2 separate regions of the Homo sapiens genome follow, and region 2 is linked to region 1. Evidence: fine-mapped expression QTL. Tissue or cell type: aorta. Region 1 holds a variant in brackets; the other region holds the start of a gene. All regions are shown on one strand. Distances are from middle to middle.

Region 1 (8,101 bases):
GGCATGGTGGTGCGTGCATGTAGTCCCAGCTACCCGGTGGGGACTGAGGTAGGAGGATTACTTGAGCCCTGGGAGGTCAAGGCTGCAGTGAGCCAAGATCGTGCCACTGCACTCCAACCCCGGTGACAGAGTGAGACCCTATCTCAAAAAAAAAAAACAGACAAATAGACCTTGTACGTGAGGCCTGGCCATTTGTTAACCCGTGTGAAAGATGTTTCGGTGGCCATTTAATGAACATATGTTGAATAATGTGCTGTACTGTGTACCACAGATACAAAGGGGAAAAAGATACAGAAGGAAAAAAGAAAACTCAGTATCACATACTCAGCCCCTTCTGATAGAACAGGTGTGTCCAAGCAGCAACATCCTAAAATAGTTGTCCTCCACTCTGGGATGTAAAAGAAGTTCTTCTGGGATTTGGTTTTATTACAATGACTGAGAATTTGCTCTCCCTCAGTTATCATATCTACTGTGACAGGCCTTGCACACGTCCTGTGAGATCCTACCTGCCAAGAACCTGTCTGCCATTTCTCATTAGTATCTTTGTGGTTTGCAGTCACCTGTGTAGAATTTGCACATATACTCAAGTGTTATTTGTTTTCAATTACTTCCTCAATTATTGCTGGTGTGTGTGTGTGTGTGTGTGTGTGTGTGTGTGTGTGTGTGTGTGTGTGGTATTTCATAGCCAAAGCTATAAAATGTATTTCCAATAATATTAGTAGAATTTTTTCAGCCCCTAAAACCCACCATAAAAGTTAACTATAATAACAAGGCCCGTAGGCCTGTACACAAGGGCATGGTTTCTATCGAAGTGTATTACACAGGCCAGACCTCTGGATTCTCCACCTCCAGTGGCTGCTGTTTAAAGCAGGCATTAAAAGGAAGATCATTTTCATGTTTGTGATTTGAAGCATGTGTGTGCTCACGAAGGATACCTCCCTGGACAATGCCTGGAAGAGGACTTTGTGAAGTGGAGACTGTACATGATTCCACCAGCAAGCATGTGTCTTGACAAAGGTTGTTAAGGACAAGAAGTTGTGCCTTAGCTGTAACCAAAACCCAGCCTAAGCAATCAGGTGAGTTGAAGTAGATGTTGTCAAAGCTAAAAAGAAGCCAAGCGTGGTGGCTCACACCTGTAATCCCAGCACTTTGGGAGGCTGAGGCAGTGGGATTCTTGAAGCCAGGAGTTTGAGACCAGCCTGGGCAACATAGCAAGATCCCATCTGTTAAAAAAAAAAATTAGCTGGGTGTGGTGATGTGTGCCTATAGTCCCAGCTACTCAAGAGGTTGAGGTGGGAGGATCGCATGAGCCCAGGAGGCCACAGTGAGCCATGTTCGTGCCACTGCACTCCAGCCTGGGCAACAGAGCAAGACAGCATCTCTTTTTTTGTTGTAAGACAAACAATCCCATAGCATTTATTGCCATCTTGTAATAACATAAGGGTAATCAAAACAATATGAATAAATGTTCATATTGGACAAAGGACAGCTAAAAACAAACTGTATCCTTCTCAACAATTTCTCACTTCATTGATCATTTCTAGCTGGAGACACTTTGTAGCAGAGGAATACCTCCTTTTAGCATGATCCGACCCAGTTGTTTTCTTGACTTTGTTTTAGAATGAATCTCTTCCGCATCATCTAATAACAAGGTTCGTATACTCATTAAAACCAATGATACAGCCTTCTGTCCGCATATTCACTTGCTCATAGAGCCACACCTGAATCTGCGATCTATTTTGTAAGTATCTGAAGATGAGGTTGATGGGCGCATCTTCACCTTCTGCACTTTCTGGCCCTGGCCATGGTATGCCATGGTGGAATTTCACAAAGAGCACACCCGCACGCTGCCTCTGAGAGCAACTTCCAGAATCAAGACACCGTCTCTTAAAAGAAAAAAAAAAAAACTAAAAAGAATAAGATGTAGGCTTAGGGCTTCCTCCCCTGAGGAATTCTTTTGGATCCCTCTGGCCTCTGACAAGCCAAGCAGAATATGGAGAAAGGAGTCTGTAGAGGCTGCTGTCAAGTCCAGGGTAAAAACACGAGCATTTCCAAGCATTTCATCAAGGACTTGTTAAAGATCCAGGTTTGAAGTCTCCAAGGAAGACTTTTTTTAAAGATGTTGCCCAAAGGAAAAGAGATCAAACCAGCAGAATGAATTCCCCATCATATACATGGGGGATACCCAGGAACTCACAGGGTCTCTCCGGAACTCTGAAAGCAATTAGAGAACAAGCATATGGGTTGTGGTCCCTAGAGTTGGAGCCTGATGCCATCCTCCAATAAGTTCTCCAGCAGATTCCCTTTGGAAGGCTACTCATGGACCCGGGAAGAAATGACACCCAAGAGCGGGGAACTAGAGGCTAACACAGGGTACTTGCTACTGCAGTGGCTTCAGATACCCTACCCCTACCCCAAACTTGGGCCAGGCCAGTGGCTATGGAACTCCAGAAAGAAGGGCCTCAGAGAGAGAGAGGGAGAAGGAGAGAGTGTCATCTACATCATGACAGTTGCACCTTTTCCATGTGCAACTGGGGAAAGCTGCGGTCCCTCAGCAGCCCTTTGCCTTCACTTGGGCCAATGACCAAAGGTACCCAGGGTGGTAGTCCAGTCACTGGCAAAAGCATGGCAGCCTTTTGGCAAAAGACTTGGGGGCATAAATAGTGAAACACTCAGAGAATGGAATGATTGGCTGGCTAGAAAATGGATGGAGGGTGTTGTTGGGAATAGGCAGTTGGAGATGGGAAGGGTAGGCCAGGGCTTTAATGCCCACTGAGCAGGCATCGGGAACCGCTGGAGCTTTTGTTGGGGGTAGGGTGGAGGGGGGGAAGTAATGCAATCACAGGAAGGGTGGGCTGGCCTGGGGAGGGGCTGCCGGCAGGAGGGCAGCTCAGAGTCTTTACAGAGGTCCAGGGCAGTGAGCAGCAGAGATGAAGGGGAACAATTGGAGAGACAGTCCAAGTTAGAATGACAAGACTTGGTCCCCTGTCAGTTGTAGAGAGTGAGGGAAAGAGAAGAGGCCAGAATGATCCCCAAGGTTTGTACAATACTCAGGGTGACCGCATGTCCTGGTTTACATCATCCATCATAATTGTTAAAGGTGTTCCCTTTCACTTTCAAAGGAGCCTTGGTTGATAGGATGTAGGAAACAGGATCAGGGCTGGATTTTGATGAGTCTGTGTGGGATTGAGCTGCCTGTAGCACGGTGTCAAGGAAGCACTTGGAGATGAGGAGGAAGGCTGGAGCCAGCTGCAGAGATGAGCGTGATCACCGCGTGGGTGCCAACCTGCAGGGGGAGGAGGAGACTACCCAGAGAACACCAGCTTTCGAGGCATAGGCCAAGGTTCTGAGGAGCGGCTGGAGGAGTAAGTGGAAAACCAGCCGAAAGGGTGCCCCAGAAGCTGAGGGGCCTCTTAGGAAAAAGACCTGGAAGATGACATTGGGTTTGGTAGTTAGGAGGTCAGCAGTGGCCTTAGCGAAAACAGGGCCAGTGACGTGGAAGGCAGGTGGCAGTGGGCCGAATGATTGGAGGGAGTGGAGGCATTGACAGTGGGGGTTTGACGGTTTTGTAAAGAGCTTGTAAGGGAGAGACGGCCTCAGCACAGGGCCCATCCAACTGTGGGTCTCCAGCCAATTGCACTGATTTTTCCTGCCCATTCTTCCTTCTTTGAAGGGAAAAATGGAAATTGAAGAGGAAGAAATCAATGACCCATTTGAACCATGACTTGGAGTTTAATTCAGCGTGTATCTGAGTGACTACGTGAGTACTCCTGACCTCCAGGAATGGATAGAATGGAATATGGAAAATCAAGGTGGATCAAATGAGAATTTGGCCAGTGGACTTACAAAAAAGTATTCAAATGGGCCACACCTACCCAGTCTGGTGCTGTGCATGCATCACAAATCCTCGGACATGAGATGGAGTTGTCACCTGGTCAGTGATTGGGTTTCAGAGTCTGGATAGGAACTGGGGGCTCAGGAAGGAAGTGGCAAAGATGTGGAATTTTCAGGTCATCATCAGGCCTGAACAAGACCTGATCACCACCCAGTCTCGGTCCTCAAACAGCTGCTTGTGAAAGTTAAGTTCTGTAACCAACTTCATGCACAGGCTATGCCTAGAATTGG[T/C]GTTCTACTAGGTCAGTCAGGAAGTGACAGGGGATTTGAGAAATGTTTTTAGAGCCTTTGTGCTCTGAAATGTACCCTCCTCCCTAACCCAACTAGCCTAGCCTGGATGCTTGAAATTCCATAAAGACCAAGCCCTGGATTTGATTGGAGAGTTGGGGGAATGTGTTGCAGCCCCTCTCCCAACCCAGAAAGAAGGCATGTAATGTGCTAACGCCGTTAGGAGTGTTTATGGCATATGGGTTATGATATTGAATTTGTCCAATAAACCATCAGGAAACTTGTGTGGGCATTTCCTGTCTCACTTTGTGATGGCTAATTTATGAGGGCTGCTGTCAGGTTATAGATTCTCCATTTTTACCAGAAACTTCCACCTTGAGCCTTATAATGGATCCACCGGAATGAAGATATGTATTCTAGGCAAGGATTTAGGTAGGGGAGAACCATGAACCTGGCACACAGTAGCACTAAACAGTGTTTAATGGGTAAGTGGGTGGATGCTTGCTCTGGGCTGTGAAAGAAGAGTGTAAAAGAGACAGGACCATAGATCCAGGAAGGTCATCTTTGAAAGAGAAGCCCAAACAATGGGTAGAAACTACAGAAAGTTATGGAGGGGTAGGTGTGAGCATTTGGGGACCACTCTGATCGCACATTAATATTACCTGGGAGCTTAAAAAAAAAAAAAGTAGATGCTTAAGCCCCACCCTGGAAGAGTTAAATCATAATGGGGAACGCAGACAGGAATCAGTGTTTTTAAAGCTCCTCCCAGCAGCCCTGGTGCCAGTGAGATCTGAGAACTAGCAGACTGGGTTGTCTCCTCTGGTTGAATTGGCGCCCAGACCTTCCCCCAGAGGGGAATCCCTCTGGAAGGGAAAGAGTGGAGGAGAGTGTCCAGGGCGGGGCTGTAGAGTGGACCCTTCCTCAGCCAAGGAAGGACTCGTGCAGCTGGCAGTCACAGCACTTACTGGCCCCAGCGTATGTTGCCCAGGAACCATTGAAGGCTTCCAAACGGCTGAGGTCACATTTTTCCAGGCCCTAATGGGAACGGTTGGGAAGGTTGTCAGGGGCAAGACCCCATTCAAAATAAAACAGCACTCAGAAGTTCAGAAATGAGAGGCTGAAGATTTGAATATAGACTTTACTGGGTTTTTTTTTTTTGAGTGTTTTTATATATTTAATTTTTTTAATTAAAAAGTGATTCCCATTGCATATATTTGCATTTACCTTTTAAAATCAATGTATGTTTAGCCAAAAGAATAAAATAAAAACACCCATAATCTTGTCTCCCAGAGAGATTAAGTTCAACTCACCTCTTAGTGTATATTCTTCCAGATTTCTCAACACATACATAAAGATACCTGTTTTACAAAATTACAAGTAAAAGTAGGATTCAATACATGTTTTTTCTTTTTTTAAGCACTCCCCATTACACAGGTGGAAATACATGTTTCGTATCTTGCTTTTTCACTTAACAGTGTAAACACCTTTCTGTTTCTGTAAATAACCACCTACTACATAAATTCAGATATCATAATTGCAGCATAAGGCATTTAATATCTTTCAGCTATTATAAACAGCTCTTCAGTGAACATCCTTGCAGCTATATTTTGCTTGCATCCTTAATTATTTCCTTAGGATGCATTCCTAGAGACAGTAAGCCTTCAGAAGACTTGATACATACTTCCAAATTGCACAAGACAGGATTTACTAATTTACTTTCCCACCACCAGGGTATTAAAAAGTGCCTGTGGTAATTAAAGGGGGAAAAGGCCACTGCCAACATGAGAGACTAAAAGTAGTTAACTCATTACTGAGTTCATAACTTCTTTATCTCAAATTCTGCAAACAAATGGGAGTGGAACCCAGAGATTTTCCTTGACGGCTTGATGCCCAGCCCAGGAGGATCTTTGTTGTCTGGCCCACCAGGTCACCGGCTCCTGGGGTTTTCAGTGCAGCAGGTATCCTTGTCCAGGGCCTTTGTTTCCCGCTGGTCATTGGTCCAGCATGCTTCCGGTGGGGACTTGGGAACCACCAGGGGGCAGTGTGGAGCTGTTGAGCATGCTCTGCATGCCTTACGGCTTATCCATATTGAAACTTTCAATAATACAAGTATTCTTTTGTTGTGTTTTATGACTTCTCAGATTGGTATTTATAATATTGATTTGCTTACATTAGTATTTCATCCCCTTCCAATTATTTTTATGTTTATGTGTTGTAAAAAAAATAACCTGATCCATCATAGCTGTTCTGTAGCTGGCGGCCAGGACACCTGGGTTGTTCTGATCCCAGCTCTGCCAGTGTCCTCCGTGACCTTGGTGGGACAGCTCACCCCATGGGCCTGACTGCCCTTATCTGAGGAGTGCCAGGATGGGCTGCAGGAGTGGTATGTTTTCTTCTCTTCCAGCACTAGCATAATGAAAGGATTGAGAGTTGGCCTTGGCCAGGTGTGGTGGCTCATGCCTGTAATCCCACCACTTTGGGAGGCCGAGGCGGGCGGATCACTTGAGGTCAGGAGTTCAAGACCAGCCTGGCTAACGTGGTGAAACCCTGTCTCTACAAAAATACAAAAATTAGCTGGGTGTGCACCTGTATTCCAGCTACTTGGGAGGCTGAGGTGGAAGAATCACTTGAACCCGGGAGGCGGAGGTTGCAGTGAACCAAGATTGTGCCACTGCACTCCAGCCTGGGCAACAGAGCGAGGCTCTGTCTCAAAAAAAAAAAAAAAAAAAAAAAGAGTTGGCCTTTGGGGCTGGGCATGGTGGCTCACACCTGTAATCTCAGCACTTTGGGAGGCCGAGGCAGGTGGATCACTTGAGGTCAGGAGTTCAAGACCAACCTGGCCAACATGGTGAACCCCTGTCTTTACTAAAAATACAAAAATTAGCTGGTGTGGTGGCGCACACCTGTAATCCTAGTTACTCAGGAGGCTGAGGCAGGAAAATCACTTGAGCCCAGGAGGCGGAGGTTGCAGTGAGCCAAGATCGCACCATTGCACTCCAACCTGGGCGACAGAGGAAAGACTCTGTCTCAAAAAAAAAAAAAAAAAAGAGTTGGCTTTTGGGTTTGGGATAGACTGGGGCAAGTTAGTTAACCTCTTTGTACCTTAATCCCTCCATCTGTTAAATGAGGATAATAATAGCATCAACTTATAAGGCTGTGGGGGTTAAACGAAATAACACATGGAGTATCTGGCACAAGGTAACGCATCACTAAATGTTTTCTTTAAAGAAATCTGTTTATCCAAGATTTATGCAGACAGTTTCCTGTCCCTGGCTTTGGCACATACTTATTTGCTTATCTGAAATGATATTAATATCAAACAGAGTATGAATTTCAGAAGTGCTGTATTCCACAGTGGGGCTGAACAGAAGAATCCCAGCATCAAGGCCCCCAGCTACAAAAGATTAGAATGTTTTTGTTTGTTTTTTAATAATGTATTAACTGTAGGGGAAAATATAAAAATAGAAGCAGATATGATATTGGTAAATGTTTTTTATTTGATCACTTTAGGTAAATGGAGTCTTACTCACCTGATAGGGTCCCCAGTGGCAGCGGACTTTCCCATTCCCTCTATCCATCATTCTCCCAAAAGGTGATGGTTTCTCTGTTCTCACCCTAGGTCAGCTAAATTAGGGTCTGTGGCAACAACCCCAGGAGTGTGACCGCTAATTGCCTTTGCAGACAACATTTCCACTAGAGCTGCCTGGGAGGCAGCACCTCCAGAGAGAAGGACTTGCACCTCTAATTTGGTTAATCCTAGAACACCCTGCAATAGTCATCAAGCACCTCTCACAAATGATATGCTGTGCTTAAGGCCGTGGGGACCCAAAGGGCGAATAAGATTGGATGCCTTTTTTTTTTTTTTTTTTTGAGACGGAGTCTCGCTCACGTCACCCAGGCTGGAGTGCAGTGGCACGATTTCGGTTCACTGCAACCTCTGCCTCGTGAGTAGCTGGGATTACAGGCGCCCGCCACCATG
Region 2 (8,101 bases), 130 kb before region 1:
TAGGCTATACCACCTAGGTTTGTGTATACTCCATATGTTCACAGAGCAATGAAATTGCCTATTTCTCAGAATGTATCCCTATCATTAAGCAATACATGTCCTAAACTCCATCATTGTTTTGTGAAAGCAGCCATTGGCAATGTATAGGCTAAGGAGTATGGCTATGTTCCAATAAAACTTTATCAACACTGATATTTGAATTTCATATAATTTTCATGTGTCATAAATATTATCCTTATTTTTATTTTTATTTTTTGGGACAAAATTTCGCTCTTGTTGCCCAGGCTGGAGCGCAACGGCGCGATCTCGGCTCACTGCAACCTCCGCCTCCCGGGTTACAGGCATCTGCTACCACGCCTGGCTAATTTTTTTTTTTTTTTTTTTTTTGAAACGGAGTCTCGCTCTGTCGCCCAGGCTGGAGTGCAGTGGCACGATCTCGGCTCACTGCAAGCTCCGTCTCCCGGGTTCACGCCATTCTCCTGCCTCAGCCTCCTGAGTAGCTGGGATTACAGGCGCCCGCCACCACGACCGGCTAATTTTTTGTATTTTTAGTAGAGACGGGGTTTCACCGTGTTGACCAGGATGGTCTTGAATTTCTGACCTCAGGTGATCCACCCGCCTCGGCCTCCCAAAGTGCTGGGATTACAGCCGTGAGCCACTGCGCCTGGCCCTTATGATCTTTTTCAACCACTTAAAAATGTAAAAAAAGCGGCCGGGCGACGTGGCTCACACCTGTAAAACCAGCACTTGGGCGGATCACCTGAGGTCAGGAATTCGAGACCAGCCTGGTCAACATGGAGAAACCCCGTCTCTACTAAAAATACAAAATTAGCCGGGCGTGGTGGTGCATGCCTACATTCCCAGCTACTCAGGAGGCTGAAGCAGGAAAATTGCTTGAACTCGGGAGGTGGAGGTTGCAGTGAGCCGAGATGGCACCATTGCACTCCAGTCTGGGCAACAAGAGTGAAACTCCGTCTCAAAAAAAAAAAAAAAAAAGTAAAAAAAAAAAGTCTTAGCTGAGACCATTCAAAAACAGGCAGCAAGCTGTAGTATGCTGCTCTAGATGGTTGTTTTTGGTTTGGCCTCTATGCCTGGTGCTACAAATCACCAAATTCTCTGAGGGGATGAAACAGCAGTGAATACAAACTCGCTTGAATGAATTTCCCTTCTGGTATTTTGACTCCTCACGTCCTGGCTGACTTGGTTGACAGTGATGCCTTCAACTCAGCTGGGTTTTGTTGTTTTATTTTGGTATTTTATCCAGTTTATAGTTAGTTGTTCTTGATGAAGGAGTCAATCTGACATCAATACCCCATTAGAATGGGAAGTGGAAGTCTACATGTTAATTTTAATTTGCTACTTTTGCTTACCATTATGAGCCTCCTTCTATATTGACAAATATATCTCCACAATGTCATAACATTCCATTAGATGAATGCACCATGATTTAACTTAATAATTCCCTATAGGGGACATTGAAATTGTTTCTAGATTTTTTCACTGTGATGAACACACTTCTACAGGTTTATTTTTGTACCTAGTTGTTTCCTTCAGATAAAATCCTAGAAGTACGTGGATAAGTCAAAGGGTTCACACTTTTAAAGGTATTTCACAGGTATTACCAAACTTCTCTTTAGAACTGTTACACAATGGCCCAGCATCTATGTGCTTCTTAGTATAGGGGCCAATGCTGGGTGTTACCATTCTTTTCTTCCTTTGCCAATCTGACAGATGAAAACTGGTTATCTCAATGCTGTTTCCGTTTGCATTTCTGGTTTATAGGTGTGGCAGGCTGATAATGGCTTACTCCCAAAGCTGCATCTATGACCTAATCCCTGGAAACTGTGAATGTTTAAGGAAAAGAGGTCTTTGCAGATATGAAGTTAAGGATTTTGACATGGACAGGTTATCCAGGTGGTCCTTAAATGCTATCACAAGTATCACTTTTTTTTTTTTTTTTTTTTTTTTGAGACAGAGTCTCACTCTGTCGCCAAGGCCGGAGTGCAGTGGTGCCATCTCAGCTCACTGCAACCTCCTCCCTCCAAATTCAAGCGATTCTCCTGCCTCAGCCTCCCAAGTAGCGGGGATTACAGGCGCCTGCCACCACACCTGGCCAATTTTTTGTATTTTTGGTAGAGACAGGGTTTCACCATGTTGGCCAGGCTGGTCTGGAACTCCTGACCTCGTGATCCACCTGCCTTGGTTTCCCAAAGAGCTGGGATTACAGGCGTGAGCCACTGTGCCCGGCCACAAGTATGGTTTCTTACAAGAAGGGGGCAGAGGAAAATTTGTCACAGACAAAAAAAGGAGAAGGCAATGTGATTACAGACGCAAGGGTGGGAGTGATGTGGTCACAAGCCCCCAGAAGCTGCAAGAGACAAGGGTAGATTCTTTTCGGAGCCTCCAGAGGGAGCATGGCCCCGTCAACACCTCCATTTCTACTCAGTGAAACTGACAGTGGACTTCTGTCTTCCACAACTATGAGAGGATAAACTTCTGTTGTTTTAAGCCACCAAGTTTTCGTGATTTGTGACAGTAGCAGCAGAAAACTAGTACAATAGGTTTTTCATATATTTATGGACCATAAACATGAAAAATCGTCTGACTTTTAAATCTTATAAAAATAAAATAACACACAATAATACAAAGAGTATGATTCTATGTATGTACATCAGAATATCTGTAAATACGTTTACATATGTTCATAACTGCCTAGGAAAGTGTCTGGAAGGATATATACCAAACTAGTGACAGTGGTTAACCAGAGGCAGTTAACTGAAAGTGGTTAATTAGAAGGGTCCTGTGTCCTGAGGGGGAAAGAGGAACTTTTACTTGTTACTCGATACTGCTCAAGATACATCTGTTATTTGAAAACGCTTTATGAGACTGTACTCATGTATTGTGTAAAAAATTAGAAAAGGCATATCTGCTTGTTATAAAGTTCATAGAAACCAGAAAACTATCTCCTTTCACTTATCCTTTCCCAGAAATAGTCATTGATAATAATTTGCATCTTCTCAGATTTTTTTCTACGCAGAAATAAATGTGTATAATTTTTTTAAAAACAAAAATAAAATAGTGAGTGTCATATATAGTGTTTCATTTAAAGATGTTCCTCCAAAATCAATCTTGGTCCATGTGCCTGTGTGTGTGTGTGTGTGTGTGTGTGTGTGTGTGTGTGTGTGTGTGTGTATGGGTGGGGGGAGGGGCGGGGACACTGCATAGAACTGGCCAGCTGCATGGACTGTCACTGTAAAGAAAGATGAAGAATGCATGTCACCAAGCTCTCTGATGCTTTGAACCTAGCATATGTGGCTTTGCCCATATGTGCGGGCACCTCTGTAGAAACTCTTCTGCCAGTTGGGCTGAAAATAGTTTTACATAGTTCCATACTGCCTTCCAAGCTGTTTTCAAAGTTTATGCTCTAATAGTTCCCCACGGAGGATAACACAAGATATTCATTTTCCTCAAACTTTCCCGCACAGGTTGGAGAGAAACGACATCTTAATGTCATTGTAACAGGCATTTCTTTATTAAAAAAATTTTTTTTTTGGAGACAAGGTCTTGCTATGTTGCCCAGGCTGGTCTCAAACTCCTGGGCTCCAGCGATCCTCCTGCCTAGGCCTCGGGAGTAGATGGAACTCCAGGCGCGGGCCGTGGCGCTCGCACCACAGGCATTACTTAGGTATGAGGCTGGTTGAGCATTTTTCTCGTGTTCACTGGCTACTCACGCAGCTTTGTGAATGGCTTCGGAGATCACTGGACAGGCAATTTTCCCTCTCAATGAACCAAATCCAAATTCTTTTGGAACCCAAGACCGCGATTTTTCGATTTAGGACCTAGTCCCAAACAATGAAGAAAAGGTGATCTTCAAGATTTCAGCAGGGAAATCTGTATATCTGTACAAGGTTGAAAACCTGGGCCGGGGGTCGCGTTGGAACCCCACAGGAAAAAGGCGCGGAAAGCCGCCGGGCATTTTCCGGGGTTCCATAGATGTCCCCAGTGTCCTAGTCCGTGCATCAGCTCGCGCACTCGGAGGGACTCTAGGCAGGGGGAGGGCCCCGCGGCCAGTATGTGCGTCCGAGGCTTTCCCGCAGGGGGCAGTGCCGCCCGCCCGCGCGCCGATACGGTGGGAGGGGGTGGGAACCTGCGCGGAGTTCTGGAGGTTCTTTGGGAGAAAGTTAGGGGATGCGGAGGGGTGGGCGCAAGACTTCCAGGACTCCAGGGAGGCCGTGGGGAGGGCCGCCGAGGGTGCAGTGTGAGGCGCAGGAGGGGGTTGGGGGCGGTGCACGTTGCAGGGAGACGCAGCCCCTGGAAGATGCGAGTGTGAACGTGTGAGTGTGAGTGCGTGTGTATGTGTGTGTGTGCGCGCGCACCGCAGCTCTCCGGGTTCCGCGAGGCGCGCGGGTGTCAGCTTGCAGCCGGGGCTCCTCCCTCCGGCCCCCCTGCCCAGCCCGGCGGTCCCTCCTCCCTCCCTCCCCGCTCGCCCCTCCCCGGCGGGCCAGGGGCTGGGACGCCCCGGCGGAGCAGGCGGCGGCGGTGGCGAGTTGGGGAGCCCTAGGCTCGGCGCTGCCGGAGGGGCCCGAGCCGAGCCGCCTGCGCCCCGGCCGGGCAGCGCCGGGCCCGCTTCCCGCGGGGCCACGCCCTGTCAAACTTTGTTGCGGCGGCTAGCGCAGCGGGCCCGCAAGCGGGCGGGAGGGGCGCCGGGCCGGGCCGGGCAGGGCGCGGGCGGCTAGGGGCTCCGAGAGCGGCGGCCCCGGCCCGCGGCCCCACCATGCCCCAGCTCGGCGGCGGGGGCGGCGGCGGCGGCGGCGGCAGCGGGGGAGGCGGCGGCTCCAGCGCCGGGGCGGCCGGCGGAGGGGACGACCTCGGGGCGAACGACGAGCTGATCCCCTTCCAGGACGAGGGGGGCGAGGAGCAGGAGCCGAGCAGCGATAGCGCCTCGGCGCAGCGGGACCTAGACGAGGTCAAGTCGTCCCTGGTCAACGAGTCGGAGAACCAGAGCAGCAGCTCGGACTCGGAGGTAAGGAAGCACCGCGGCCACCCCCGGGGGATCCCGGCCCTGCGTCCGCTCACCCGCTCTTGCCTTTGTGTCTCCTCCGCAGGCGGAGAGGCGCCCGCAGCCCGTCCGGGACACTTTCCAGAAGCCGCGGGACTATTTCGCCGAAGGTATGTGCCCGCTGGGACAGCCCCCCACTCTCGATTCCCGCTGCGCTCCGCTGCTCAGCCCGGGCGGCCCACCGTCCCCCTTGCTTGGGTGGACGCACCCTTGCCCTCCGCCTTTATTGGCGGCAGCCCCCGTGGGGCGCGCGTGGGGGGCGCTGGGGTCCCCAGCTCCCGCCTCGAGCCCCCTGCCGCGGCGCTGTCAGTCCCGGGGGCCTGGGCCTCACCTCGCCTTGGTCTTGTTCGCAGTGAGAAGGCCTCAGGACAGCGCGTTCTTTAAAGGACCCCCGTACCCTGGGTACCCCTTCCTGATGATCCCGGACCTGAGCAGCCCGTACCTCTCCAACGGACCCCTGTCTCCCGGAGGAGCGCGCACCGTGAGTGCCCGTCGGGCGCGCCGGGGAGGGTGGGAGGCCGCGGCCCGCAGGATGCGCCCCCGGGCTTGGCCATGGAGTGGGGGATGGGGCCTTCTGCGCCGATCCCAAGCAGAACTTGTTTGCGGAGTTGAACTACTCTCTGGCGGCCGAGCGCGAGGCTGCGCTGGCCAGTGCCTGGATGAAAGTAAAGTTACTTTAACTTTTCCCCTCTTGCGGGTTGAGGTTTTGGAGTCCACCTCTGGGATCTTCCTTGGCCTCCAGAATTCTTCGCCTGCACCGAAGGAAACTTGGATTTGTGCCCGCTTTGGGGGGGTCTCGCTTTCCTTCTTGGAAATCGGTCAGCTTTCTCTGGCAGTGGGGCAAGGGGCCTAGGGAGCTGGGTTGGCGACGTTGTCCTCCGACTCCGGGTTCACTGGGCGGCTGCAGGCTGGTTCCTAAGAAACCCAGTTTTCGTGGCGGGTTATTCACAGCCCCCGTTCCCACCCCCAGCCCTCGCACCGGGGCCTCAGCTTTTCTGCGGAGCTAGCTCCGAATTTTAAACTCGCGTAGATGATTTCGAGGCGACCCAAGGCATTCTTCAAGTTGAGGAACTTGGCTTTTTCCCCCTTTTGTCGCCTGCTTTTCTCATTTAAAGCGAGCGCTGCGACACTTTAAACCTGTTAATGGGCGCGTATTGTGTGCTGCCCGCTGGCATTTAGAGCGGTGATTAAGCAAATTGACCGGGCCCCAGACGACGTGCAAATGAGGGCGGATTCCTTCGCCCCCTCTCTCTGGCTCTAAACTCCCGCCCCCCGCGTTGCGAGGGGCGCAGCTGGGGGCTGGCGAGGCCTTTGTGTCCCCCAAGCCGCCACTCCACCCCTAGGCTCCCTGCCCAGGTGCTGGGTCCGATGACAGATGTTGGGTGAACGCCTACCTACTGTGTGCCAGGTTCCCGCGTGCTGCTGCTTGGGCGCGATGTGAATCGTAGTAGTTCTTTGCTTCCCGCCCAGATTCCCATTGCCTGCCACTTCGCTGTCGACGGTGGGTAAGGGGGCAGGGAGTGTTAGCCTCTTAGGAGCAGGGTCCCAGCAACACACTTTATGCTAAGACTGCCCTAAAATAACGACGATAATTAAAGGGTGCTAGAGAAAGGCTAGGTGCTGAATGGCCATTCCTGCTGTCATTGTACAGCGGTCGGTGGAGAGCCAAGTCCTCCACATTTGGTTCAGCGGGGGCGCTACCATCACCAGATGGGTTGGAGGGGGATTGACGGGGGGCGGTGGAAGAGACTCTGACTGAGAGAGAGGGGAATGGGGAGTGGGACTACACAGACCTCACAGTTTTGCCCCGAGAGGGAGGGAGGTCTTGCAGCTTTGGCCCTGCTGGCCTGGAGCACCCCAGGAAGTCCTGAATGTAAGTGTCAGTTTTGCAGTGAAAACTGGATGTGGGTCTATGGCTGTTGCTTTTTCTCATTAAAAGAAAAGAGGTGCGTGCCAATCAAAGGGGGGGGGGGATCAACGAGCTGCTGCGGTCTTATTTAGGTTTTCAGTGATTCCCACCAGTGCCCACACATGTAGCTTAGTTCTGCAAGTTTTGTTGGGATTCGTGTAACTTTGCGTATGGGGGAGAGTTAATGCCGCTAAAGTCTCAGGTTTCCATTTACTATTAGGATATCTAGAGAGAGGGGTCTGGGAGGCACTAGCATCTGTGCATCAGCCCTCAGCCAAGTCCTGATGCAGTTAAAGTCACCAGAAATGACTATTTCACCATCAAATATGACTATGGCTCCCTCAAGGCTATTTCTCCATGCACCCATTTCTCTTTAGGGCATTTTGATTCATCCAGGCTCTGCTGTCTGCTCTCTCTGACAGTCCAAGTGAGACAGATTTTTGTTAGTGTCCCCTCCTTCCTTCCTTCTATCACATTATGTGTTCTTTCGCCTAAGAACTTCCAAAGGCTGATTCTTGCTGATCCTGGAGATTCCTGATTACTAAATCCAGGCCCGTGTGGGATTTTGGAGCCCCTCCTTGAGGCAGCCAACCTTTCGTCTCTGCATGCCTCTCTGACTGTCCTTGTTCATCTCTGCAGTTGTTCCCTGCCCTGGCCCAGGCACCAGCCTCCTTTCAAGCCTCCTAGGACATGTACTTTCTTGGGGACTTAGTATGTCCCATCCCACCCCCATACCTACATCTTGTCTCCCTGGTGACTTGCCCTTACAGAAGTTAGTTCAGTTCCCAGTGTTTCTGTGTCTCTGTGTGCCTTTCGCTGTGTTAGTTCACGGATATACTGGGGAAGTGTCCTGCCCTTAGGTCAGCACAGTTAAACCTAATTTGACCCTGTTCGTTTGCTGCCAGTAAGTAAAGCAAGTGAGGAAACACTTAAGCACTTGGTTGTCTGGACTATAGGGTGGAGATGATGGTTTTCTGCTGAACGATTCTATTAATATAATTAAGATAATTGTCACTGTAGGCAAATGGTAGGTACAGACAAAGTGGCCCTCTGTTGGTTTCCCAGCCTGGTAAAATGAATGTGGATAGATACGAGTGGGGAGGGAGGAGGGAGGAAAGTGCCTGGGATATATG

Which allele goes with the higher level. Alleles are on the strand shown, and positions count from the first base shown. SD is a standard deviation of normalised expression in the study named.
With allele T in place of C in region 1, the expression in aorta of the gene that starts at base 4,482 in region 2 is lower (small effect, 0.34 SD a copy in GTEx).

What was found. PIP is the estimated chance that this variant, and not a neighbour inherited with it, causes the effect.
Region 2: it holds the start of TCF7L1, and the variant in region 1 is fine-mapped to the expression of TCF7L1 in aorta (GTEx, PIP 0.91).

The regions. Positions count from the first base shown.
Region 1 is chr2:85,260,499-85,268,599 of GRCh38, forward strand. All of the region lies in intron 3 of TCF7L1 (transcription factor 7 like 1), which reads left to right. It also overlaps the pseudogene SNRPEP11. Among named protein-coding and RNA genes, the nearest start is that of TGOLN2, 63 kb to the right of the region's middle. RefSeq lists enhancers at 1-56, 2,040-2,967. The variant T/C (reference allele first, on the strand shown) is at 4,126.
Region 2 is chr2:85,128,911-85,137,011 of GRCh38, forward strand. It overlaps TCF7L1 (transcription factor 7 like 1), which reads left to right and starts at 4,482. Exons shown (of 12, transcript NM_031283.3): 1 at 4,482-5,023; 2 at 5,106-5,169; 3 at 5,413-5,540. The coding sequence starts at 4,775. RefSeq lists a silencer at 4,082-4,151 and enhancers at 4,517-5,091, 5,667-6,241, 6,242-6,815.